Linked DNA regions of Homo sapiens. The protein of the gene in region 3 purifies or fractionates together with the protein of the main gene of each other region. This does not show direct contact. Each region holds a gene or a part of one and is shown on either strand. Other genes may lie near its edges. The genes, in order: SLC25A17, SLC44A1, LRRC8B, LMBR1, NPEPPS, ABCB9 and ADCK2.

Evidence for each region.
Region 1: the proteins of LRRC8B (region 3) and SLC25A17 purify together in Homo sapiens (affinity purification with mass spectrometry; 2 studies listed by BioGRID and IntAct, with this or other methods). This does not show direct contact.
Region 2: the proteins of LRRC8B (region 3) and SLC44A1 purify together in Homo sapiens (affinity purification with mass spectrometry; 2 studies listed by BioGRID and IntAct, with this or other methods). This does not show direct contact.
Region 4: the proteins of LRRC8B (region 3) and LMBR1 purify together in Homo sapiens (affinity purification with mass spectrometry; 2 studies listed by BioGRID and IntAct, with this or other methods). This does not show direct contact.
Region 5: the proteins of LRRC8B (region 3) and NPEPPS purify together in Homo sapiens (affinity purification with mass spectrometry; one large-scale study listed by BioGRID and IntAct). This does not show direct contact.
Region 6: the proteins of LRRC8B (region 3) and ABCB9 purify together in Homo sapiens (affinity purification with mass spectrometry; 2 studies listed by BioGRID and IntAct, with this or other methods). This does not show direct contact.
Region 7: the proteins of LRRC8B (region 3) and ADCK2 purify together in Homo sapiens (affinity purification with mass spectrometry; 2 studies listed by BioGRID and IntAct, with this or other methods). This does not show direct contact.

Annotation. Positions count from the first base shown.
Region 1 is NC_000022.11:40,791,847-40,795,346, forward strand, and holds part of SLC25A17 (peroxisomal membrane protein PMP34), read right to left. Parts: intron 2,735-3,500; coding exon 2,668-2,734; intron 831-2,667; coding exon 679-830; intron 1-678.
Region 2 is NC_000009.12:105,359,651-105,363,150, reverse strand, and holds part of SLC44A1 (choline transporter-like protein 1), read right to left. Parts: intron 1,961-3,500; coding exon 1,821-1,960; intron 331-1,820; coding exon 144-330; intron 1-143.
Region 3 is NC_000001.11:89,576,829-89,580,328, reverse strand, and holds part of LRRC8B (volume-regulated anion channel subunit LRRC8B), read right to left. Parts: intron 739-3,500; 5' UTR 738-738; coding exon of another isoform or gene 675-737; 5' UTR 641-674; intron 1-640. Other genes in the region: uncharacterized LOC128092251, read right to left, coding at 675-737. UniProt on the Homo sapiens protein: Non-essential component of the volume-regulated anion channel (VRAC, also named VSOAC channel), an anion channel required to maintain a constant cell volume in response to extracellular or intracellular osmotic changes.
Region 4 is NC_000007.14:156,722,184-156,725,683, forward strand, and holds part of LMBR1 (limb region 1 protein homolog), read right to left. Parts: intron 3,343-3,500; coding exon 3,252-3,342; intron 1,996-3,251; coding exon 1,929-1,995; intron 1-1,928. UniProt on the Homo sapiens protein: Putative membrane receptor.
Region 5 is NC_000017.11:47,537,608-47,541,107, reverse strand, and holds part of NPEPPS (puromycin-sensitive aminopeptidase), read right to left. Parts: intron 1-3,500. UniProt on the Homo sapiens protein: Aminopeptidase with broad substrate specificity for several peptides. Involved in proteolytic events essential for cell growth and viability. May act as regulator of neuropeptide activity.
Region 6 is NC_000012.12:122,931,978-122,935,463, forward strand, and holds part of ABCB9 (ABC-type oligopeptide transporter ABCB9), read right to left. Parts: intron 3,455-3,486; coding exon 3,295-3,454; intron 352-3,294; coding exon 215-351; intron 1-214. UniProt on the Homo sapiens protein: ATP-dependent low-affinity peptide transporter which translocates a broad spectrum of peptides from the cytosol to the lysosomal lumen for degradation.
Region 7 is NC_000007.14:140,671,517-140,675,744, reverse strand, and holds the start of ADCK2 (uncharacterized aarF domain-containing protein kinase 2), read right to left. Parts: upstream 2,801-4,228; 5' UTR 2,415-2,800; coding exon 1,482-2,414; intron 1,135-1,481; coding exon 988-1,134; intron 1-987. UniProt on the Homo sapiens protein: The function of this protein is not yet clear. It is not known if it has protein kinase activity and what type of substrate it would phosphorylate (Ser, Thr or Tyr).

The DNA.
Region 1 (3,500 bases), on a different chromosome or scaffold from region 3:
AACAGAATTCCAAATGATCCAGCAATCCCACTTCTGGGTATATATCCAGAAGAATGGAAAGCAGGCTCTCAAAGAGAGAGCTACACATCCATTTTCATAGCACTATTCACAACAGCCAAAAGATGGAAGCAACTTAAGTGCCTATTAACAGATGAATGGATAAACAGAATGTGATATATACATATAATGGAATATTATTCAGTCATAAAAAAGTAAGGAAGTCATGTCACATGCTGTATGGCATGGATGAAAGTAGAAGACATTATACTAAGTGAAGTAAGCCAGTCACAAAAAAAACAAGTAGTGTATGATTCGACTTATATCAAGTATCTAAAGTAGTCAAATTCTTAGAAACCGAAAGTAGAATGGTGGTTACTAAGGGGCTCAGGGAAAGGGAAAAGGGGAGTTTAATGAGAATAGAATCAGGTCTGCAATATGCAAAAGTACTGGAGATTTGTTTCATAACATTGTGAACATGTTTAACACTACTGACCTTACACTTAAAATTAACATGGTAAATTTTATGTCACGTTTTTTAACACAATTAAAAAAAAAAAAACCAAGTTGGAAAACTGGCTATATTCTTTGTAAGCATTACTTTGGGCTAAATAACCTCTTAGAGGATATAAAACCACAAGGTAAATATAAAAACATTTTATACCCAGAAAACCTTGTTACCTGCAACAAACCCAACTACCAGATCTTTTCCAGTGGTAGAATGTTGACCTTTGACCCAGAGTGCTTTGAGGCTATTAAAAGTGTAGAAATAGACAAAATTGGAGCAGCAGAGACTGGAAATCACTGGAAACCACCCTCGATATGGTGCCAGGCTAGGGGAAAAACACAATAAGCAAAGTAAAGGTCATGGACAAATTAGAAATTGGCAGAGAAATCCTAGGAAAGGCTGACCATCATTCACATGGTCTCAAGCTTCACTCCTACACGAATACAAGGGACTCCAAACTGTACACACACCTCACATTCTGAAGGATGTCCAAATCAAGAAATCTATTCTAGCACTAATGATACCAAAGAAACAACACAAAGTCTGATTGATTTATTAATTCCCTCCCTTAATTTTCTTTAGTAACATTGGTATATAAAATTAGAGACAACTTCCTCATGGCTGTTAGTTAATAGAGTACCATTCATGTTTTATTACAGGGCAAGAACAGTTAAAATGAAGTAATTATAGGAAATAAGTATCAAAAAAAAAAAAGATGGGGGAATTCACAAGGGCACAGGAGCTCACAGGAGCTCCTACAGGCCAAATCTGGGGCAATTTGAATACCAAAATAATGAAGTACAGTAATCAATTGTAAACCATTGAAAAATAGACATTTCTGAGCCTATACCAATAATAAGTAGATAAATAAATGAAGGAGAAGGGGAGGTCCTGCTTATAGCAGAATGCCAACATTGGTACCTGTAGAGGCAATGCTGGAGTTGGAAAGTCGTCATTTTGCAACTTCGTGGTAAATTTAGGGGAAAAATGTTGATAAAGCACAGGATATTTGTATTGTTTTGAAGTATCTCCACATAGACTGCTTATAGTTGCAAGGGAAGAAAAAAGTAATTGCACAGTGGCTAAATCAAATTTAAGAAATCATAATTAGCCAACCAAAGGCAGGCAGACAATATGTGAGTCAAGATGTGATATCTTGAGAAGGACACAATATCACCTGTGCATTATTCAGGCCAATAATGTATAACCTCAATGGAATCATGAGGAAATGTGAGGCAAACTTAAAAATGAGAAACTTTCTATTTTCTTTTTTTTTTTGAAACGGAGTTTTGCTCTTGTTGCCCAGGCTGGAGTGCAATGGCGCGATCTCGGCTCACCGCAACCTCCACCTCCTGGGTTCACGTGATTCTCCTGCTTCAGCCTCCTTAGTAGCTGGGATTGTAGGCATGCGCTACCACGCCCGGCTAATTTTGTATTTTTAGTAAAGACGGGGTTTCTCCATGTTGGTCAGGCTGTCTCGAACTCCTGACCTCAGGTGATCCGCCTGCCTCGGCCTCCCAAAGTGCTAGGATTACAGGCGGACTGTATTGTTTAAAAGTGTCAGTGTCATGGGGCTAAAAGGCTTTGATGTATGTAACTTACTCTCAAATAATTCAGAGGAAATTTGTGTGTGGTGTGTGTAAGGAGAGAAGGGAGGTGGGAGAGAGACAGCATGAGCAAAAATAGTAAAACAAACAGGAAAAGATGTTAACAGATGAATCTGGGTAAAGCATATACTTGTCTTCTTTGTACTAAGTTTAGTTTTGCAAATTTTTGTAAATTTAAAATTATTTCCAATAAAAAGCTAAAACAAGAAGTACATAATCTGTCTTAATGCACCTGACAGGAATGAACTAAACAACTATTATTTTTTTTTCAGTTTACTGTATATAAAACAATGCATTTTAGTTTCATGGAAGACTCCATGATCAAGAATCAAATGGCTTAAGGTAAGCATTGTACAAAAATAAATAAAAAGAATCAAATGCCTCACTACAGATCTTTAAGAAACTGAAAACAATTATGTACTTATAAATCAGGCAATTCCAAATTCACAACATTAGAGTGCTGTGAGAAAGATAGAAAGTAAGCATAACTCTACTGGAAGCACAGGAATCTCCTAACAAGTTGCTTTAACGAAGGTGAACTGAGGTAGTACTCACAGTCCTTCTTCTTTAATGATCTCCAGGAGCACCATGTGTGTAGTTTTGGATTTTCTTTTCTCATCAACTACAAGACCAAACAGTGCATGTTTATTTTATTAATTAAAAAAAAAATTTTTTTTTTGAGACAGAGTCTCACTCTGTCGCCCAGGCTGGAGTGCAGTGGCGTGATCTCAGCTCACTGCAACCTCCACCTCCTGGGTTCAAGCGATTCTCCTGTTGCAGCCTCCCAAGTAGCTGGGATTACAGGTGCACACCACCATGCCCAGCTAATTTTTGTATTTTAGTAGAGGCGGGGTTTCGCAATTTTGGCCAGGCTGGTCTTGAACTCCTGACCTCAAGTGATCTGCCCACCTCGGCCTCCCAAAGTGCTGGGATTATAGGCATGAGCCACCGTGCCCCGCCTATTTTTTAATATTTTTAGAGACGGAGTCTCACTATGTTACCCAGGCTGGTCTCAAACTTGTGGGCTCAAGGGATCCTCATGCCTCAGCCTCCCAAAGTGCTGGGATTACAGGCGTGAGCCACCATACCCGGCCCGTGTATGTTTAAACTAAATCCTTTGAGGATTATAATTGTTAACATCAGCAAGTTTCACTGAAATGCCATTTACCTCACCTTTGAGCTCCCTAGGTTGCCCCAGAACTAAATGATGCCCCTGTGTGACCATGTGCTAAATTCCCACTGCAGATCCCTTGCCCTTCATCTGTTACTCATGAACCATAAAGCAGTCTAATTTAATTCCTAATTTCCAAAGGAAAAGACGACAGAAAACATTTCTTCCTTTTTTTTTTTTTGAGACGGAGTCTCGCTCTGTCACCCAGGCTGGAGTG
Region 2 (3,500 bases), on a different chromosome or scaffold from region 3:
TTGAGGAGCCATAACCACTACAAGTTCTGATGGCTATTGGACCTTCATCAACAAATGTCTGAAGAATTACCTCTCTCTGATGTTCTAAAATACTGGAATGCAAATCACGTTTGTCACTAAGAGAAAGAAGCTTATCTTCTTACCGGTAGTGCCAAGAAAAAGAAGTGTCATGATCCAGTACACCCAAAACAAGACAAGAGCAAAGAAAGTCCAGAAGGGTTGGAAGACTAGCAGTGGCAAGTGAATGAAGACCTTGCCAGCTACGTGGAACAAGGCGATGGTAAGAGCAACACGTTTGCGCATAACCAACATTATCAGGAATAAGATCACCTGTATGGAGAGAATGGTTTCAGTTATTATTATAAGTAGTGAAAACAGAAACCGAAAATAGTAGAAATTTTTAACATAACCCTTCAGCCCCAAACCTGGAGGTAGCATTCTTTGAATTTCAATAATACTTTATCAGTAAGTATCTCTCTTGCAATATTTATTGTCAATTTTATATTATGGTTACCAAGTGACCTTTAAAGCAAAACATAAAAGGATTTCTCAACTTATTAATACATTCTAGAATTTTTTTCCTTTTCCCTTTGCCACTCATTATGAACCAAAACATACTGTCAGTCAGGATGAGACTCTTTATTTATTTAAACAGATACACCACAAAAACGAGGTTTTTATTTGTATCTTCCTTATTAGACCAACAGCTCCTTAAAAGTGGGATCTGTGTCAGATTCACCCTTTGCCTCCTCCCACCCCCACATCCCATCTTCAGCAGCTGGCACAGCAAATTGTACCTAAAATGAGATTTCATTCATATTTTGTTGTAATATCTGTATAACAATAACTAACAAATATCTTTTGGCACCAATGGTTTTATGATGGCTTTATTTTTTGTTTCTGATGCTCAATAAAAAGCTTGGGATTGCTCTTAGAAGTAGACTGATTTTTTTTCTTTTTTCAGAGAGAAGACGATGATGAACCAAAGGTATACATATAAATTATTTAACCACATGTTAATTGGTAATTTTATTGCTTAATACCTAAGCAGCAAATCTCACACACACACACACACACGCGCGCGCGCGCACACACACGCACACACAAACACACATATATATTTTGGAGACAAGGTCTCACTCAGTTGCCTAGGCTGTAATGCAGTGACACAATCATGGCTCAGGTGACCCTCCCACCTCTGCCTCCCGAGTAGCTGGGACCACAGGTGCACACCAGCATGCTCAGCTGATTTTAATTTTTTGTGAAGACAGGGTCTCACTATCTTGCCCAGGTTGGTCTAGAACTCGTGGGCTCAAGTGATCCTCCCACTTCAGTCTCCCAAAGTGCTTGCATTATAGGCATAAGCCACTGTACCTGACCACACCTATATTTTTGAAATAACGCCATAAAGTTAAATGAAAAGTTTGAAAGACAAATGGGAAGATAATTAGCAAACAAGTAAATGGAATGATATATTTTTTAACATACTTTTCTACAGTAAAGGGAACCATTTTTAAAAAGTAATTATCTTATGACAATAAGAAATATGTTCTTGTAAGCAAATGGTAATGTAAATATTCTAGGTGAAAATCCTCTCTCAAAAAGCAGACAGGGTAGAAAAAATGTTTCATCAAATAGCACTCATCCATGAGGGAAGCCTTCAAGAGACTTTTTAGTGTTTCATACACTATGGCACAGAGATATTATCTACTGGAGATCAGGGTTAGGAATGCAAAAGCTAGATTTGAGTTTCTGCTCCATTAATGATCTCCTGCAAACAAAAACACAAAACCGAAAGACACGCCAAAGCCTAAACTCACTGTGAACACTGTAGCTGAAATGGCATAAATGAGGAGGGCCCGAAGATTGTCTTCAGCTATCTGAAGCTGCTCAGGAGTAACAGTTTCTTTGGGAGACCTTCTTTGCTTTGCATACAGCCACCATAGTACACCTGTGCCTCCTGGAGACAAAAGACCCAACTGTTAATGCAATAATTAGGATAAGAAAATGTGTAACATAAATTCTCAATTTTCTTGACCCTTCCTACAGATCATCATGGGACTAATGCAGTGACAATCCATTTGGCTGGGAAGTACATAGCTATAACTTTTTGCCAGCATAAAGAAAGTGTCCATTGCTCTATTATCATCCTCCACATTAAGCATTTATAAATCCTTCAGTGTATCAAATAAGCTTCCTTCAAATGTATTTATTATTGACTATGAAGCTAAGAGCGAGCCAGTAGAAACATACACCCCTGACAGGAATTGACCACAAAGAAAGAGCCTCAGCATTTAAGCTGAGGAGGCTGGAGGAAGGAAATAAGCATCACAGAAAACATCAATGAAGCTTAAAGAGGGCAAGGATCTTCTCTGTTGTACTCATCACAGATACCTCTGTGACTTGCACTGACACAGTAATGCAGTTGATTAAGTATTTGTACAATGAATAAATGCAAATCAAAAGAACAGTTCCCACCAAAGGGAGGAACAAAGAGGAAATCTCTGATAGTGGTGGGTGCTAGGGATAAGCATTTTTAAATCTCCAACACCGGTTGAGAGATTCAAAGAACCAGACTGAAGAGGGAGACAAACCTACCTCCACATATGAGAGCTGACTTATATACCTACTTTCAACCCATTCAGCATTTTGAATGCTACAGCACCTATTGTTCTAGCTGGAGATAGAACAGTAAACAAAGCCAAGTTCTTACTCTTGCTGTTCATGGAACTTATATAATAATAGGGAAACAAAAAAATAAGAAAACAAGGAAAAATACAGTATATTAAGTCTAAAGAAAAAATGATCTCCTGGTAAGAAGGATATAGAGTGTCTGGGTAGGGAAAGCTTTGCAATTTTATATAAGATGGGTAAGCAAGGCCTCACTGGTATTAGTAAGATGATATCTGAGCAATGGAATCAAAGACAGAGAGCAATCTATGACACTATCTAAGGAAAGAGTGTCCCAGGCAAAGTTCAAAGAGACTGAGGTAGAACCATGCCTAGTATGAGAGAAAGAAGACCATTGTGGCTACTGCAATGAGCAATGCGGAAAGTGGTAGAGATGTGGGCAGAGAGGTAGCTGCGGACCAGACCACACTGTAAGGCCTTGTAGGTCACAGTGAAAAAATGGATGATTCAGAGTAGAGACATGTGTGTGTGTGGCTGATATGATAAATGTCTGGGATATAAAAAACTGAAGCAAAGTCGATGTACATCAACATCTGCACTCAAGAGTTAATGAGATCAAAGGCAAATTCCATTACCTATTTGTTGGCAAATACCAAGTACAAATTTTCCATCTGTTGAAGAGGAGGAAACAAATCAAAACTACCAGAAATTGGTGAAAAACATTTTAGAGCAAGGGAATGTTTCCATTTTGAAGTCTTGCAGGCACAAGAAAATTGTCTGGAAAAATGTTTAATATATTCAGAAAATGGAAGAAAATATGTTTCCTACATACAGAAATGAATTATAGGAGAAAAGCTGAAGTTAAAAAA
Region 3 (3,500 bases):
CCTGCCTCGTGAGATCACAATACTGAAACCCAATGCTCAGTTACAGGTTAAAGATAAAATGGGCAAAAAACCAACCAGGAGCTGTTGTTTCTAAACCGTTTCCTACAGAGGAACACGGGCAATCGATGATATTCAGCTGAAATAATAGATGACTAGGTGAGCCCGAGAATTTATCTTTACATTTTTGCGCAACAACCTCACAGGTGAAAGAATAGTGGATTTGTTCCCAAGGTAGAACCAGGTAGATGGAAGCTTTAGAAAATCACATTTTGATTCAATCTGTGGTGGAAAGTCATCGAACTAGCTGCTCTGTGAAACAGTTCAGCTCTATGTCCTGAGCAGAATCTTGATAAATAAAATGACCATCCATCAGGAGAGTTGCAAAGGAATTTCTTGTAATGGATAAAAAGAGTGAAGCAGATAATTTCAAAGGGTTCTTTCAGCTCTAAATTCATGTTTCATTTGTCCTCTCAAAGGTCCTGAGAATTAAATTCATTTAAGATATGCAACTGAAATTGTAGAAGAATGAAAACAACAATAGCTCTAACAATGATAAGGGTATTTGACAGAGTGAATATTTATTCAATAAAAATACAAGTCAACATTGACCAAAAAAAGTGTTTTAAATATTTATACTTACTACAGTGAAAAAAATTAAATAAATCCAATATGCTTCAGTCAGGAGGTCTACACCTTTTGAAGTTTCTTAGACACACCATCTCTGTGTTTGTCTTCATTCTATGAGAAAACATAGATATCTTGAAATAGCTACAGTCATTCAAACAAACAAACTGGAGATACTGTCTCCAGAAGCCCTCTCAGTCATAAGACATGACATGGCAAATAGATTTTCACACTCTGGGCCTCAAGCAATCCTTCCACCTTGGCCTCTCAAATGCTGGGATTACAGGTGTGAGCCACTGTGCCTGGCTTAGATTTTCATAGGTCAGTTTACTTTTCACACTGGGGCACATTCTGGCAAAGGTGTATCTACAGGGCCCCACTCACATTCATTAAACCATACTCACTCCCTGAACTTCCTTTCAATTACAGGTTAGTTCCCACAGCAATTTAAACACAACATATTTTAAAATTCTGTGTCTACAACACTTAGATGAACACAGCTTTTCTAAGTAGTCGACATATGTTAATTTCTCTCACTCATTCCTCAAACACAGTCGTTCTTATTTGCATTTTTCAGACAGCTTGTCACACCAAGTGATTTCTGTACCCATATTTAAAACCAAACATCTATCCAAATAAGTCTCAGTGCTCCTAAAATTTAGCCTACCAATCTCATTAGAAAAAGTGATAAGTTAATATACTTTTTCAGATACAGCTCAGAAATATGGCTGAAATTACTTGAAATTATGTTATTATTAAACATACTTAGGCTTTATATTAGATTTGTTTAATTTAGAGTTTAATAAAAGCCATTTGTAACATTTATAGTTCAATAATTTGTGATAGTTAAATTACATATATATTGATAATTTGAACTGTGAGAAAATTGTAAAATGCTAGAATTTGTTTTTAATTGAAAGTAAAAATTATATCTTTTAGTGCCTATGAAACCTCAAAAAAAAAGTTTCTAGGGAGATTTTGTATTATACAATCCTTTTTAAAAAGTACTTCAAATCTTCCTAAGAGTACTGACCCCAAATTGTATTTAAGATACTTTTAGCAATAATCTTTTAAGCTTGTCATTTCAAATATCAAAAATTTGGGCATGTCCAAAACTTACTTTGGGTTTACCAAGTCATGTGCAAAGCCTATTTTACAATTAGTCACCATCCAGCATCAAATTGTTTTGCAGGTTAGAAAGCACAGTTAGTATGTATAAGAACCTAGCTGTACACTAATTCATAACTACAGGGCACAACTGGAGTAAGATTTCTCATTCACAATTCACAAGCCTTTATAAAAGTCTTACAACATATATCACATGACTGCATTTATGTGCACTGAGCATGATAAAGACATCTGATGTGTGAAACATTTTACATATTCTTCCATAGCGGCTGCATTTGTAACATGCCAGAAAAGAATTTATTGCATAATTCAAAAATGTTACTCAGCCATGATTCTTCTTATACAGTTCTCCTTAAATATTAGAAATATACTTTCTACTTTATTAATAATTTAACATCTGTTTTTCTACCTTCAAAGCATGTCTCATTTACATTAATTTGTTTTATACTTAAAACAAGCCATTGAAATAAATAGTATTACTCTTTATGTTTATATGCATAGAAATTAAGGCAGTCCCAAAGAATTAACCTTGCCCAAGGTGACAAAACCTCTAAGAAATAAAGTTGCAACTGGAACTTAGGTCCTCATACTCAAATCCCAACCTCATGCACACCAGACCACATGGCCTCAGTCAATCCAATTAACTACGCCACAGTCTTAGGTCTCTCAAAAGCTGAAGAAAAAGCTAATTAGCGCTCTTTCCCAACTCATCCAATATCTGCATTATAACTGGGTTATAACTGCATTATAACTGGGTTTGAATAAGGATGCAAATGTAGTTTTCTGTAATGTCTTCCGTTACATATAATCTACTTTCTCAGCTAAACATTTTCCTACTAAATATTTTCTACTGAACTAAAACTTAATATTTAAATATATAGCATCTGGATTTAAGTATATATAAAACATCTCAGCATTCCTATGTATAAAATGATGATAATTTTCCTATTTGAAGTGCTTAACTAGAGAGTTTAAGCATAGCTATCTTTTGTCATTATGCCATTTAATACTGTCTGTCCAGGAAATTGTTTCCAGACCATATTTTAGTAAACAATGATGATTCAATCCAAATAAAATATCTATTTCTAATATACAAACACACTAAATCAATCCAAAGAAATGTTAAGAGTAATGGATTTTACGGTTCTAATCCCATTATTTCAGCTTTTAAACCTCATTAAGAAGTCATAAAAGCTTTTTCAAAACACATGAATTCACTTGACAATCTTACTCCAAAGTCTCTAAGACTGTAACATCAACATTCAAGTTAGGCATCTTTACTTCCCAGTAGTCCTTATTTTACTTTGAAAGCATTTCTAAAATAACAAGTGAAAAAATAAACAAATGATGATCAGATGGTATTTAGTGTCATTATATACTGAGAAGAGGACGCTACTTCAAAGATCTGTCTCTGACCCCAGGCAGGGATTATAGCCGAACAATTCCAAATAGCGGTTCTCTACACTACTCTCATTGAAAATTGATTTAAAAATCACCTTATATCCCTTCAAAATGTTTAGTGCTACTTCCCATTAAGATGTTTCTTGGGACTAACATATATCTAACTGAAATTTAAATTCGCCTTTTGTTGAGTTCTCTCTCTAGGAAACAATGCATCAGTATCTCTGATTAATATGCCCCTTTTCTTTATGCTAAGTAACTCATTTCACCATTCTTGAGAGATTTAATGACAAGCATTAAACATATTTCAAGTGCTTAAATGATCACCGGCAATAACATTTGATATA
Region 4 (3,500 bases), on a different chromosome or scaffold from region 3:
ATTTCACAGGAGCAAAGGAGACCACACTAAGGTCAGGGTTTCCTTGAGAGAGGCGACAAGAAAGACTGAAAAATGTCACAGCTTGGAATCTGATTGCTTAAATACATCCTCTATTCTAGTCTTATAAGCTTTTCAGCTGGTAAATCAAAATCCTGTTATACACTAGGATAATATTCATGACAATTCCCTATATTTTATCTTCTTAAAATCAAAGACTCAATTCTAAAGGGTTAATAGAGGAATTACAAAGTAACTCTCTAGTTTGCATTTCCCATAATGCTAAAATAAAGCTTTTTCTTTTAGTCTAGAAATTTGCTTTTTTAATACTGTGAAAAGCCTCTATGAATCTGTTTAACGTATTTATTTCTTTTCATCTATTCAATGCCACTGGGCATAACATGTAATGCAGTGCGTGTTGATATTTTGCAAAGCACCACATGACTCACTGTACCCTAATGCACTCCATTAATCCTGTTTGGACAGCTGGGTCCAGGCATTTGTTAGCTGCATTTTAATTGTTCCATCTTTCTTTTTTTTCTTTTTATTTATCTCTATGGCAAACTACTCTGGAATTTAATTTGTTGGCCTTCAAAAAGTAAATTTTACCATTAGTTTGTTTTCTTTGTGTTAAAACTATACTCAGCATGTAATTTTCTTCCATAAAATCGGTATATATTAATGATTAGCAATCAATCTTAAATAATAGTACAGTGAATGAGTTTCCTAAGTATTAAAATGATAGGTTGGCTGAAATATAACAGAAATTATTTAATAGACTGTCATAATATAAATGATAACATTTAACATCAAATCAGGTTGCTAAAGAGCATACTTTTGGCATTTTCAAGATTCACATAAGCAGATGTCAAAACAATTACAAGTCCTATAAAGCAAACACAAAAGAAATAAGACTATTACACACACCAGTTTTTTATTAGCTTATGGAACAGTGGTCCCTTTACATTTATACTTTTTGTTTTCTATTACAAACATGAAATCCTTTGTAAGAATTATGAAGATAACTACAAAGCTTCTACTTTCTTTGCACAGCCTGCATCCCTGGTATCTGTAAGTCTTCAATAAATAATGGAGGCAATATGAGAGCTAATGCAAAAGCAACTCAAAGTTACCAGCAATTTTTGTTATGAGCAAGTAGCTAAAATTTAATGATCAAAATTTTCCAATCATTCGTGTGCACTCTTAAGTCAAAACCTAAGTCTAGAGAATTAGATAGAAATGCTTAATGGAAACTTTTGTCTGAAATAATATTTAGTGAAGAACTCAGAATATGGTCTACAATAGCATTTTATAAAAGACAACTAAGGGAAGACTTACTCAACTATTTCAATGACAAAGCAAAAATCTGTTTTTCTTTTAAAAGATTATCAAATTCTCCGTAAACTGAAACAATAAGAAAATGACAGAAATGAATGACAGGCAAGTAGGAACTCTCAAGGGTGTCCTTTGAATCAGAGTGTGTTCTCAGAGATTACACTGCGTTCACCTCTATTTTGTGGACACAAAGCAGCTTAAAATAATTTACAAATTTTCAATTTTTTAAACCATACTAAATTATAAACGCTCAAAAGCTTTTAAATAGAAAAATTAGTTTAATGCAGTTTCCTCACTAGAGGACTCGAAAGCCTAACTTATAGATGTGTCAGTAAAAACAAAATACAACAAAAACCAGCCCGTTGTTTGGAGAAAGAATGCTTTTAAGTGTTTAAAAAATAAGTAGTCATTATTTGATAAAAGTATTTGTCTTGGTATGCCCCTATACATAAAGTATAGAAGTAAAAGTGTAAAATAATGTAGGAAGAAACACTGTATTTCAAAGGTAATCTTTATGAGTAAATGTTAAATAAGTTCAGTAAAGACAGTTTTTAAAAACATGGATCTTTAAGTGAAAATTTCTCACTGAAACTTACCCAGTGTTCTCGACATCACAGGCAGAGCAGAGCTCAAAACCAAGATGGACACACAATTTCCAATGATCTGTTATGAGAAACGAGAAAGAATATTGGGCAGTTAAACAGCAGGATGACAATCAAACCCAGTAACATTCTGAGAAATGATTGTGCATTCTAGTTACCTAGTGTACTTTGCCGATTTCTTAATGATACTATTCAGTACAGAATTTTCAAAGAATAACACACTTTTAAAATAAATAAAGTTATATCTGTAAGTTCTAGAAGATGTTTACAGTACCTAGCACAGATATAGTTATAGAATACTTAAATTACTTGACACCTAGATAATGCACTTTACATTACTGATTGCAGCTGTTACTTTCAAAAGGCTCTGCCTGTCAAGCAAAAAATAATTAACATATTGGATACTTCTGACTACATTTTTAAGGCCAGATTATTGCTTAAGATCTCTTTTATCACATCTATTTCTAATGTTAATTGTAAGATTTAAAAAGCACCAGAAATCCAAAACCTCTAAACTTTTGTAATAATGCATCCCATGTTTATTCTTCCATAGTAAATAAGAGGAGTTGAAAATATCAATTAATATTTATGATCACTTAAACTAGATACTAAATATCTCAACTACTTATTAAGTTTAAAGAAATAGCTGTGTGTGTGTGTGTGTGTGTGTGTGTGTGTGTGTGTGTGTGTAAAATAACTTCTCCCCTTTAAGTAGGCTAAAAATATAAAATAAAAACAAAACAAGCTTTCAGCTCTTATTAGTTATTCTTCTTTGTCAGCCTACGGGAATATTTTATAAAGATTCAGTCACTATATACGGCAACAGCCTTTTTATTCTGAACCCAATGACATGTTGTGGAAAAAGTCAAATTAGCCTCAGACTACAAAATGTTTCTGAATAGAACTCTTCCGTCTTACTTTAATTATTCAAATTTGAAATACTTTGTCCCTACTACTTGTAGCAACTAAGTTCTTCAGACTTCAAACAAGCTCCCTGAAGTACAGTTAGCACAATCCAAGTTACTCATTAGCAATACGTTTTCTTTAGAGGAAAAAGAGTCCTTTCAGGAGCCTTCTATAGCTAGTTAACAAGCTCTGCAGTTCTCCGCATTTACAGTGAATGGACGCCATCCAAATTAAACAGGGTACATCCCTTTCCCACTCACTCAGCATTTTGAAAATCTTCCAGTTTGTGTTTACGCAACTTACAAACAAATACCTATCACTGCAAATGAACCATTCAGAATGACTATTAAATAAAGCAGTCTGTCAGGGAAGGCAAACGAGAGGCCACAGTCACCTAAGATTCTACCTTACCTTTGTCATAGTTGTGTCATCTTTCTTGGGAGTAAAGTTTCCAAAAAATCGAAGGCTATAGAAGCCGACAACAGAGGACACCATAAGATAGCTGTGAGAATCAAGGAAAAAAACTCTCCAACAGAATGCAAGTTTCCTAAGTTCTCGGCAGTCTCCAAAAAGTCTTAAGGCCCATAGGAAAAGCAAAACAAAAAGCCGCTTTAAGTGCTTGAGGAAGACTAACCTGTTGTTTTCTCTTCTAGACAAGTG
Region 5 (3,500 bases), on a different chromosome or scaffold from region 3:
AGAAAGTATTTGTGCATTTTGGAAAGGCACCATGCACAACATCCAATTACAAGTACCTTCCAACTCCTCCTGTGTTTAAGGGAAACTCATCTATTTATACTAATGAATTAAGCTGTTTCTTGAATTGTTACTAATTTTTTTTTTCCAGGATACTACCATTTCTGGAAGGGTGGGAGGGAGGAACCAAAGGAACAAAGGTACTTATCTTAAAAATAGAAATCCATTCACATTTTAAAAATTGGTCAGCATCTTGTCTTATATTAGAGATGCACTTATTTAAAAAGTTGACCAATAATGGGATAATCTATGTAAAGTCTCTGTTTTAGCACTTAGTGCTTCATATGTAGTCATCACTTAATAGATGTTAAGACATACACATACACACACACAGGTTAAATTGTGCTCTCATATCATCTAACAGCATTCACCTAACAGTTTATAAAGCTTCTGATCAGAATGATATGAAGTTTAAAAACTATGTATTGTATTATATGGCACTTTGGATATCAGCACATGTGTACTACCCCAAGAAGGTAATTTAAAATATCTGTTTGGACATAAGTGTATGTGCTGACTACAACGCAGTATAACACTGCTCATTGTGATGCTGCTCTTCCAAACAGTAGTGCTGACCTGATGGTGTAGTACATGATTTCCCACCTTTGACACCTTCATGTTAGTAAATATTAGCTGTGTGTTCCACTATCAAAAAAACAGGTAATAATTCAAAGAAATTTCAGCATTAAAATCTTCAGTTTCCCAGTTTAAAACACAAGTGAAACAAGGTTGGCATATAAAAGTGCACTGATAACAAGCTCATTTTCAATTTTTCTACTTGATGTTATTAAAGGATAGAATGTTAGTGTATCCTTGCTTTGTTTCAAACCCAGGATTAAGTCTTCTTGGCCTCCTATATAGACTGCACTTCAACTGAGCCAAATACTAAGTAAGGGCTGTACCAAAGAGGCAGCTTGACGCCTGGTAACAACTTTACAATGGAAGTTTCCTATGAGATAGGGAGGCAGAAATCGGAGATAACATTTTCCTGAATGAGTCTTTACTACAGTCACTCAGGAACATATCTTACATGTAAGATAGTAAGACTCAAGAGGGTTTTTTTCTGATTGTCAATGTCCTGAGATTTCAGTAAAAGAAAATCTCCAGTGTGACAATTCCAAATGCCAGTCTGAAGCCTGAGTCAATTTGCCTAATAAAACTGATTTCACCATTAAAATAGCAATAATTGTTGCCTTGGTGGAACAGTTCTATAATAGCTAAAGACAAGAAGAAGCAGATAATTAGTAAACTCAAGTTGAGCCAAGTTTTCTAACAAGAAACATTGAAAAGAGCCACTTGCAGAAGGTCAAAAATAATTACCATTAATGTAAAAATGCAAAAGGCACAGAATATTGGTATGTGATGTTTGTGGCTACTAATATGCAATTAAAGTTTTAAACTATACATAGGAATAAAAAGGAATAATACGCACCTACCTGAAGAAAGAAGTTACTTCTAGAGGCAGGGTGGGACGAGATGGAAATGGGCTTTAGTGATATCTGTGACATTTTATTCCCCCCCCAAAAAAAGCATGCACAGTCTGATGAAAATGGGGCAAAACGTTAACATCTGTTTAATCTCATAGTGTGTGACTTTCTTGTATTTCTAAAATATTTCCTAATTTAAAATAAAATTTTAAAGAGATTACAAGTGACCAAATAAACCAAGGACCACATACTTGTATGGTGTTCAAAACGAAATCACTAAAATCTAGAGAACTAATCTCAGTTAACAAAAGCCATCCGAAGGCTCAGATATTTCCCACTGACTCACATACAGATTAGAGTAAGATTTACTTCACAATAAGAGCAGGCTCATTTATGTGGCAAAGTTCGGAGAAGCTTCACAGATAATTTACTACTCAAGACCACATTTACCCAGGTTGTATCAGAGTATCAGTTGTATCTAGAACCAGGAGGCTAAAAAGAAAAAAGAAAAAAAAAAAAAAAAGGCCTAGATGAAAAGCCAAAATAGGTGATACAAAGTCCGTACAATAAAACGCATACCCTTTACTCAGAAGAGAATCCAACAAACTCTCACACAGCAATTGATTTTTTAGCCCAAACAAGCTTGTTTATCTGGCTACTAAGGCTTCTTCAGATGAAGTTCAGTAAAATACAAGAGGGAAGAAATTGCACAACAGGCAGCAACAAGGCACAATAAGCAGCAAGAAGAACATGAGAGTAAGGAAAACAAAACAACTTTAAAGAACAGATACAGGCTGGCCGGGTGCGGTGGCTCAGGCCTGTAATCCCAGCACTTTGGGAGGCCGAGGCGGGTGGATCACAAGGTCAGGAGTTCGAGACCAGCCTGGCCAATATGGTGAAACCCCTTCTCTACTAAAAATTCAAAAATTAGCCTGGCATGATGGCAGGTGCCTGTAGTCCCAGCTACTTGGGAGGATGAGGCAGGAGAATCGCTTAAACCCGGGAGGCGGAGGTTGCAGTGAGCTGAGATCACGCCACTGCACTCCGGCCTTGGCGACAGAGCAAGACTCTGTCTCCAAAAAAAAAAAAAAAAAAAAGAAAACAGATATGGACTAGGCGCGGTGGTTCATGCCTGTAATCCCAGCACTTTAGGAGGCAGAGGCAGGCGGATCACCTGAGGTCGGGTGTTTGAGACCAGCCTAGCTAACATGGCGAAACCTGGTCTCTAGAAAAATACAAAAATTAGCCAGGTGTGGTGGCATGCACCTGTAATCCTAGCTACTAGGGAGGCTGAGGCAGAAGAATCCCTTGAACTAGGGAAGTGGAGGTTGCAGTGAGCCGAGATCGCACCACTGCACACTCCAGCCTGGCCTAGGCAACAGAGTGAGACTCTGTCTCAAAAAAAAAAAAAAAAAAAAAAAGAACAGATATGGCTAGGCGCGGTGGCTCACACTTGTAATCCCAGCACTTTGGCAGGCGGAGGCAGGCAGATCACCTGAGGTCAGGAGTTCAAGACCAGCCTGGCCAACATGGTGAAACCCTGTCTCTACTAAAAATACAAAATTAGCCAGGCGTGGTGGTGCATGCCTGTAATCCCAGCTACTAGGGAGGCTGAAGCAGGAGAACTGCCTGAACCTGGGAGGCGGAGGTTGCAGTGAGCCGAGATTGTGCCACTGCACTCCAGCCTGGGCAACAGAGCGAAACTCCGTCTCAAAAAGAAAAAAAAAAGAAAAAAAAAAACAGATATGAAACTGATAAATTATAGTACATAGTTTGGGGTCAATGAGAGATGTTCAAAATAAAGTTCAGTATTTAAAAAAAACAATGAAACAAACCTACACTATGAGGAATTGCAAAGCATAAAAAGATAATGTATTTTAGAAATATTTCCATTCAGATTAGTCAACTTTTTTTTTTTTTTTAAAGACAGGGTCTCGCTGTGTCACCCCGGCTGGAGTGCAATGGCGTGATCTCAGCTCACCGCAACCTCCGCTCCTCCGCTTCCCGAGTTCAAGC
Region 6 (3,486 bases), on a different chromosome or scaffold from region 3:
ACACCATACAGCTCTGCCTGGAGCCTGGAGGCTGGGTCCAGAGTGGCTCCTGGCTCCCCACTCTCAACACCAGGAATTCACCAGCCCAGGAGGCTGATAGTCTGGGAGAGCTCCTGGGGCCCGTCTCTTCTCAGCATCCATCTGCTGGGCGATGGGGGCTCTGGCCACCTGGAGCCGCTCCTGCCCCCGCATTGCCCACCACCCTGTGACTCACCAGATACTCGCTCTCGGCATCCAAAGCGCTGGTGGCTTCATCCAGGATGAGGACTGGGGGGTTCCGCACCAGAGCCCGGGCCATGGCCACCCGCTGCTTCTGGCCACCTGACAGCTGGGCGCCCTTCTCCCCTGTCTCTGTATGGTGGAGGCACAGAGACAATTTAGCAATGGGTGAGGCCGGGCAGCACCGGGGAAGAGTGAGAGGCCCTGCCCTGCAGCTGTGGAAAGGGCGGGCTGGAACCCACAACTTGAAAGCTCATGAAATGATGTTCCCCCCACCCAACTCATAAGGGGCATGCAGATTAAGCCTACATGCAAATTGATAGCAAGTTACCAATTTTCACTCATTCATTTGGCAGAAACCCAAACATCTGATAGCACACAGTGCAGGTGAGGCTGCAGGGAGACAGGCCCTCACCCGTCCTCCTGGAGAAGGGGAGTTGGAGCGAGCCCCATGGCTTGAAGAGCTGCAGCAATAACCCTGGGTCTATGAGTCTGTGCAGTGCAAAGGTTGTGTGTATTCACCACAGATGTGTGGCCTGTGGCCCCGCAAGCCCACCTGGACCAATTTTCCCCATGGACCGACTTCCTCCCATGCACAACAATATAGACACAGGTCACCTGTGACCCACAGCGCTGTTATTGCAAAAAATAAAACAAATAGACTCAAATGTCCATCAATAGGAAATTGAGTCAATCAATTATTATTATTTTAGAGACAGGGTCTCACTCTCTCACCCACGCTAGAGTGCAGTAGTACAATCACTGCTTACTGTAGCCTCAAACTTCTGGGTTCAAGCAATCCTCCAGCCTCAGCCTTCTGAGTAACTGAGACTACAGGTGCATGCCACCACACCTGGCTAACTTAAAATATTTTTCTGTAGAGGTGGGGTCTCACTACATTGCCCAAGCTGTTCTCAAACCCCTGGCCTCAAGCGATCCTCTTGCCTTGGCCTCCAAAGTGCTGGGATTACAGACGTGAGCCACTGCACCTGGCCACGCCACCAGTTCTTTATTATTTCATTTTTCTTTCATTGAGATGAAACTGACATAACATAAACATAACCATTGTAAAGTGAATAATCCGGGCTGAGCACGGTGGCTCCCAGCACTTTGGGAGGCCAACCAAGGTGGGCGGGTCACAAGGTCAGGAGATTGAGACCATCCTGGCTAATATGGTGAAACCCTGTCTCTACTAAAAATACACAAAATTAGCCGGGTATGGTGGCACATGCCTGTAATCCCAGCTACTCGGGAGGCCGAGGCAAGAGAATCACTTGAACCCGGGAGGAAGAGGTTGCCGTGAGCCGAGATCGCGCCACTGCACTCCAGCCTGGGCGACAGAGCGAGACTCCATCTCAAGAAAAAAAAAAAAAGTGAATAATCCAGTGGCATTTAGTGCATTCACAATGTTGCACAACCACCACCTCTACTGAATTTCAAAACACTATTCTAAAATAATATATATTTATTATATCAATTAATTACTAGAACTACTTAAGTTCATATCGAGGTAATTTTTTTAAAAATTAGTGTATTTAGTATATTTTAATTTAAAAATTCTTTTAAATTGACAAGTAAAAATAGTTTGTATTTAATGGTGTACAACGTGATGCTCTGAAATACATATACACTGTGGAATAGCTAAATCAAGCCAGTTAACATATACATTATCTCACATATTTATCACTTTTTTAAAGAGAGAACACTTAAAATCTACTCTCTTAGCTATTTTCAAGTACACAGTACACTGTTACTAAATATAGCTGGCCAGACACAGTGGCTCACACCTGAAATCCCACCACTTTGGGAAGCCAAGGCAGGCAGATCACCTGAGGTCAGGAGTTCAAGACCAGCCTGGCCAAAATAGTGAAACCCCGTCTCTACTAACAATACAAAAAAAAATTAGCAAGGTGTGGTGGTGGGCACTTGTAATCCCAGCTACTCAGGAGGCTGAGGCAGGAGAATCGCTTGAACCTGGGAGACGGAGGTTGCAGTGAGGCAAGATTACTCCACTCTACTCCAGCCTGGGCGACAGAGTGAGACTGTCTCAATTAAAACACAAACAAACAAAAAACTATAGTCAACAGGTCTCTTGACCTTATTCCTAAGGGAAAATTTTTATCTTTTGATCAACATCTCCCCAACCCCCCTATACATTGTATATATTTAATTATTGAAAAGGGGCTATTCGTGTGGTTCAAAAATCTAAAAATACAGGCTGGATACAATGGCTCATGCCTGTAATCCCAGCACTTTGGGAGGCAGGAGGATTGCATGAGCCCAGGAATTTGAGACCAGCCTGGGAAACATAGCAAGACCCCGTCTCTACAACAAAAATAAAAAGTGGGGTGGAAGGATGGCTTGAGCCCAAGAGGTTGAGGCTGCAGTGAGCCGTGATCACGCCACTGCACTCCCACCTGGGTGACAGAGCAAGCCCCTGCCTCAAAAAAAAAAAAAAAACTAAAAAAACTAAAAATATATAAAACTCTAAATAATGAAAAGTTTAAGTTCTTTCTTCAGTTCCCTCCTGCTCCCACCAAAACGTCTTTCATTAGTTGCTTACATGTCCTTGTCTAGTTTCTTTATGCAAATATGAACATGTTATTTTTATCTCCCCAGTCCTTTAATAGGAAAAAAAAAACCCAGCTCCTTATGCTCTGCACCTGGCTCTTCTCACTCAGCATCCTATCTCAGTGACCTTTCCATACTGCTATATGGAGAGCTGCCTCCTCCTCTGCCTCCACCTCCTCCTCCGCCTCCACCTCCTCCCCCTTCTTCTACTTCCTCTTTTTCCCAGCAGCATAATATTCCAGTGTATGGGCTTCTATAATAATTTACTTAATAAATATTTTGCTGAGTCACAGCACAGTGGCTCATGCCTGTAATCCCAGCACTTTGGGGATTGCAGGAAGATTGCTTGAGCGCAGGAGGTTCGAGTCTGGCCAGGGTAACGTAGCGGGACCCCATCTCTACAAAAAAAAGAGCAGGTGGCAGGGGGCAGTGCTTAACTCAGAGGGTTATGTCCCTGAGGGTGACCCTGTGGGCCCAGGAGAGGGGCCACCCCCAGCTCCACACCTGTGCTGTAGCCGTCCTGGAGTTCCATGATGAAGCCGTGGGCATTGGCCTTCTGTGCGGCCTCCACCACCATCTCGAAAGGCACAGTGGGCAGGCCGTAGGAGATGTTATCCGTGATGGAGCGGGCGAACAGCACGGGCTCCTGGCTCACCAGGGAGATCTGGGGAGGAGGGAGCATGGAGCATGAGAGGC
Region 7 (4,228 bases), on a different chromosome or scaffold from region 3:
ATTGATTATGGCAGAAATAATGCTAGATGTTCTCCACCAGAATCATTTCCTTGTCACAAAGGAAGACTGTATTTCCCAAGCTCACAGTTACACTGGGCCCAGGCAGTTACAGCTCTGATCAGTGAACAGGAAAGAAGTGATGTTTGCCACTTCCAGGCCTGGCCACAAAATTTATTACATGACCCTGCATGGCCTCTGCCTCCAATCCACACTGACCCCAGATGACACATGTTGAAGGAGGCAGTGCCAAACTTGGGAAGAAATTGAGTCCCCTGAAACTAGGGAGTAGAGCTCCCTCTCTTGACCGTACGGTGGCTTAGTTCTGTCATCTCAGCACTTTGGAAGGCCGAGGAGGGAGAATGGCTTGAGCCCAGGAGTTCAAAATCAGCCTGGACAACAATGGCAAGACCCTGTCTCTGTTTTTAAAATAATAAAATAAAGAGCTCCCTTTCTCTGCCTCAGTTCACCTGCATAGAACTTTGTTTTTTGTTTTTATTTTTCTTTTGAGATGGAGTCTCACTCTGTCGCCAGGCTGGAGTGCAGTGGCATGATGTCATCTCACTGCAACCTCCATCTTGGGTTCAAGCAATTCTCATGCCTCAGCTTCCTGAGTAGCTGGGATTACAGGCATGCAGCACCACGCCCAGCTAATTTTTGTATTTTCAGTAGAGACAGGGTTACACCATGTTGGCCAGGCTGATCTCGAACTCCTGGCCTCAAGTGATCCACCTGCCTGAGCCTCCCAAAGTCCTAGGATTACACACATGAGCCACCACGCCCGGCCAGAACTTTGATATAAGCAAAAAATTAATTTGTTGCATTAAGCCACTGAGATTTGGATGTTCTTTATCAGCTAGTGTTACCAGCTCTAACACATCACATGAGTTATGACATACCAGAAAATTATTCATTCAACATTTACTAAGTAGCAGCTAATGGCAAGAACTATGTTAGGTGCTATTTACAGCTGAGGGGAGGAGAACTCACCTGTTGGACCATCAGCTTCTCAAATTCCTCCACAATCTCAGGCAAGCTAAGCCACTTGATGCCTGGCAAAACTCCCAGGACTCGGCTGCCAATCTTCATCAGCAGCAGGTCCATATGCACCTGAGCGAGCAGGCCAGGGTGCAACACCTGTCAGAAAGAGGAACCGTGAGACAGGAGAAACCTGCTGGACACATTTTACCCAGCCAGGGCTGGGTCCCACCATCCAAGCAAGAGCCAGGTGGCTTCTTATCAAAGAAAAGAGGATGTGGTCCCGACACCCAAGCAGTTAGTTCACTCCAGACTCAGTTCATTTTCCTCTATCAGACTATTCACACCGCCACTTCAAGCCAATAAATGAAACAGCTTGCATGAAATAAGCACTCAGATATTGGTCAGGCAAATAGAAATAAACGTGGGGGCGATTTGCATGGCGGTTGTTTCTGATCTGGGATAGCTCAGTGGGTAGGTGAGCTGTGAGCTCTCACAACACTTACTTTCACTGCCACGGAGATGAGGTTGGTGGCCTCAGGTTGGTGGCCAGGGACCTGAGCCCGAGACACCCCTGCATTTGATCCAACCAGGTCAGCTTTAGGGAGGAGCAGCCTTTCTAGAAACGACTGGTCTGCGAGATTTTCTGGAGGTTTCCGGCCATTTCCAAGGTATCCAAAGAGCTCTCTCAGCCCACCGACTGCCCCAGTATGTGAGAAGGGCGGCAGACAGGAGGCCCTGCCAAGTCTCTGGACGCTGTCAGTCTCCAGGAAGGCAGTGTTGGCGTATGCTTTGTACACCTGGGCCACGCAGCCTGAGCCCACAGGTTCCCGGTTCTCAAAAGAGAGGATGCTCCCCCAGTCATCCCCAAAAGCCTGCCGAAGGAAGCGCTCAGTGTGAGTCCACGGGTGGGGCGTCACTCGGACATGCAGCTTGGAAAATTGGGCACAGAAAGCCTCCGAAAACAGATCGCGCCGGGTGCTGGCCCACTGGCCCAGTTTGATGTAGGTTGGGCCTGAGGTCTCGGTGGCTTTCAGAAGCAGGTGGAGCCAGAGGGTGGAGACGCTGGGAGCCAGGTAGGTGAGGGGGTAGAGGAGTAGGAGGGGGAAGAATTTCACCAACAGAGCGCCGGCGCGAAGCCAGAGGCGGAGATGCAGGAAGACGCCGCCCAGAGGTCCCGCTCGGGGGAGGCTCTCCGCGGGCCCCGCGCCAGCCGCCCCGCTGCAGCGGACCCTTCGCCGACTCAGAACGTCAGGGGCCCCCTCACCCACGTCCCCGCACAGGGAGACGACCTTGGGCAAAGTGCCCAGCAGAAGCCAGCAGAGCCTGGCATCGCGAGGGCACTCGGAGGGCCTCAGGAGGCTGAGTCCCTGTCTGAGCTCGAAGCACCTCAGGTGCGACAGGCAAACCCTGACGGAGACGCGCCAGGGCGCCACCATCCTCCCGAGGCCCGCGGCCCAGGCGGCCCGCCCTCCACTTCAGAGGCGCCCGCTCAGGCGAGGCTGCGGTGAAGCCGAAGCCCGGCCCTGACCCCGCGGACGGAGCTGCCCATCTGGGCCGGATCCGCGCCCCGCTCCCTCCAGCACCTCGCCGGGCCTCAGGCCGGAGGCCCGCGCCCCGCCCGACACCCGCCGCGCCGCGCCGCGCCGCGCGGAAGGGGCTGTCAGACGGCACCAACTGCGGAACGGGAGGAGCCAGGACCCACGCGAAGCCAGGCCCCGGGCGCCCGCGACCTGAGCGAGGGGGCCGCGCGGGCGGAGGCAGGGGCCGGGCAGCCGCAGGGTCACCGTGCGCCCAGGGGCCAGTATGAGATCGCTGGGGTGGCGGGCACCAGCCCAGGGCGCGGGCGCAGGCGGGGGCCGGGAGGGCGGGGCGGAGCGTGGAGGGCGGGCGGAGCGTCGGGGGCGGAGCGTCGGGGGCGGGCGGGAGTGCAGGTGCAGGGAACCGAGGCACCGAGGGCTGTGGTGGAGCGGAGGGGCGCGGGAGATGGATGGGACGGGTTCGGCCACTAGGTTGAAACCGCCATTGCAAAATTATAACAGATAATGAAAGAGATCTGACCTAACCAACTCCATCTTGCTTCTAACCTCCAAGCTGTCCTTGTTCATTCCTGGGCGTTGGCTGAACTAACTTTGGGAGGAACTTAGTTTATACTTTATAGTTTAAAACAAAGATGATAACAGCCCTTTCTGAAAACAAACCTCCTTCTTGCCTGGGGAATAGACTGTCTTTGTAGGACTAACAAATTAACCAAAAGATTAGAAAGTATGATTTAGGAGTCAGGCAGCAAGGCTACAGTATTCTGACCCTCCCTAAACTGCTAATAAGATCAGTGCTCAAGATATTTTGCAGACCCTGCACTTGATGGATCAACTGACACCTACCAGATCGATAAACCAGGTCATCTGATCTTAGGCCCCCACTCCGGAACTAACTCAGCACAAGAGGACAGCTTCAGTTCCCTAAGATTTCACCTCCGACCCAACCAATCAGCACTCTCGACTCACTGGCCTTCCCCCACCCACCAAGTTGTCCTTAAAAACTCTGCCCAGTGTCCCGCGCAGCCTGATCTGTGTGAATTACTCCTTCTCTATTGCAATGCCCCTGTCTTGATAAATCGGCTCTGTCTAGGCAGCAGGCAAGGTGAACCCGCTGGGCTGTTACAGGGTGGCCGGTGGGGGCAGAGGGCTGGGTGCTGGGCGGTGAGGGTCGGAGGGAGCAGAGGGTCGGTGGCAGAGGCCCGGGCAGCCAGGGTCCCTTGACCCGCCCCTTAAAGAGGACGGCGACCCCAGGCCAAGACCACCCTGCCCTTGAGTCCTGGGTCCTGGGTAGCAAAACGCAAAGGCACCCTCTATGTCCCCCTCCCCATGTCTATCTTCCCACTGACTTCTTCGTATCTTTCATTATTCCAAAGAGCATGGCTGAAAAGTATGAAGGCAGGTTCTGAACACAGGTCCGCTTTTCAGCGGGGGTTGGGTAGGGGGGTGGTGTTGGATGGGGGTAACTGGGCTGCAGGAGTAGGAACTGGATGCTGTGTCCTCGGCTGCATTAATTCGGCAATTGTGTTGGACCTTGGGGAAAGGCTCCGGAAAGGCCATATTCATTCATTCAATAATACTCACTGAGCCCAATAAATATTTCTTGAGCCCAATCTCATATTTGTCGAGGCTCAATAATATGTACTGATCAAGCTAGGTCATGTGCTGGACCCTGGGAAAGCGGACACAAATATCCTGCCCTTACTGGCTGAATA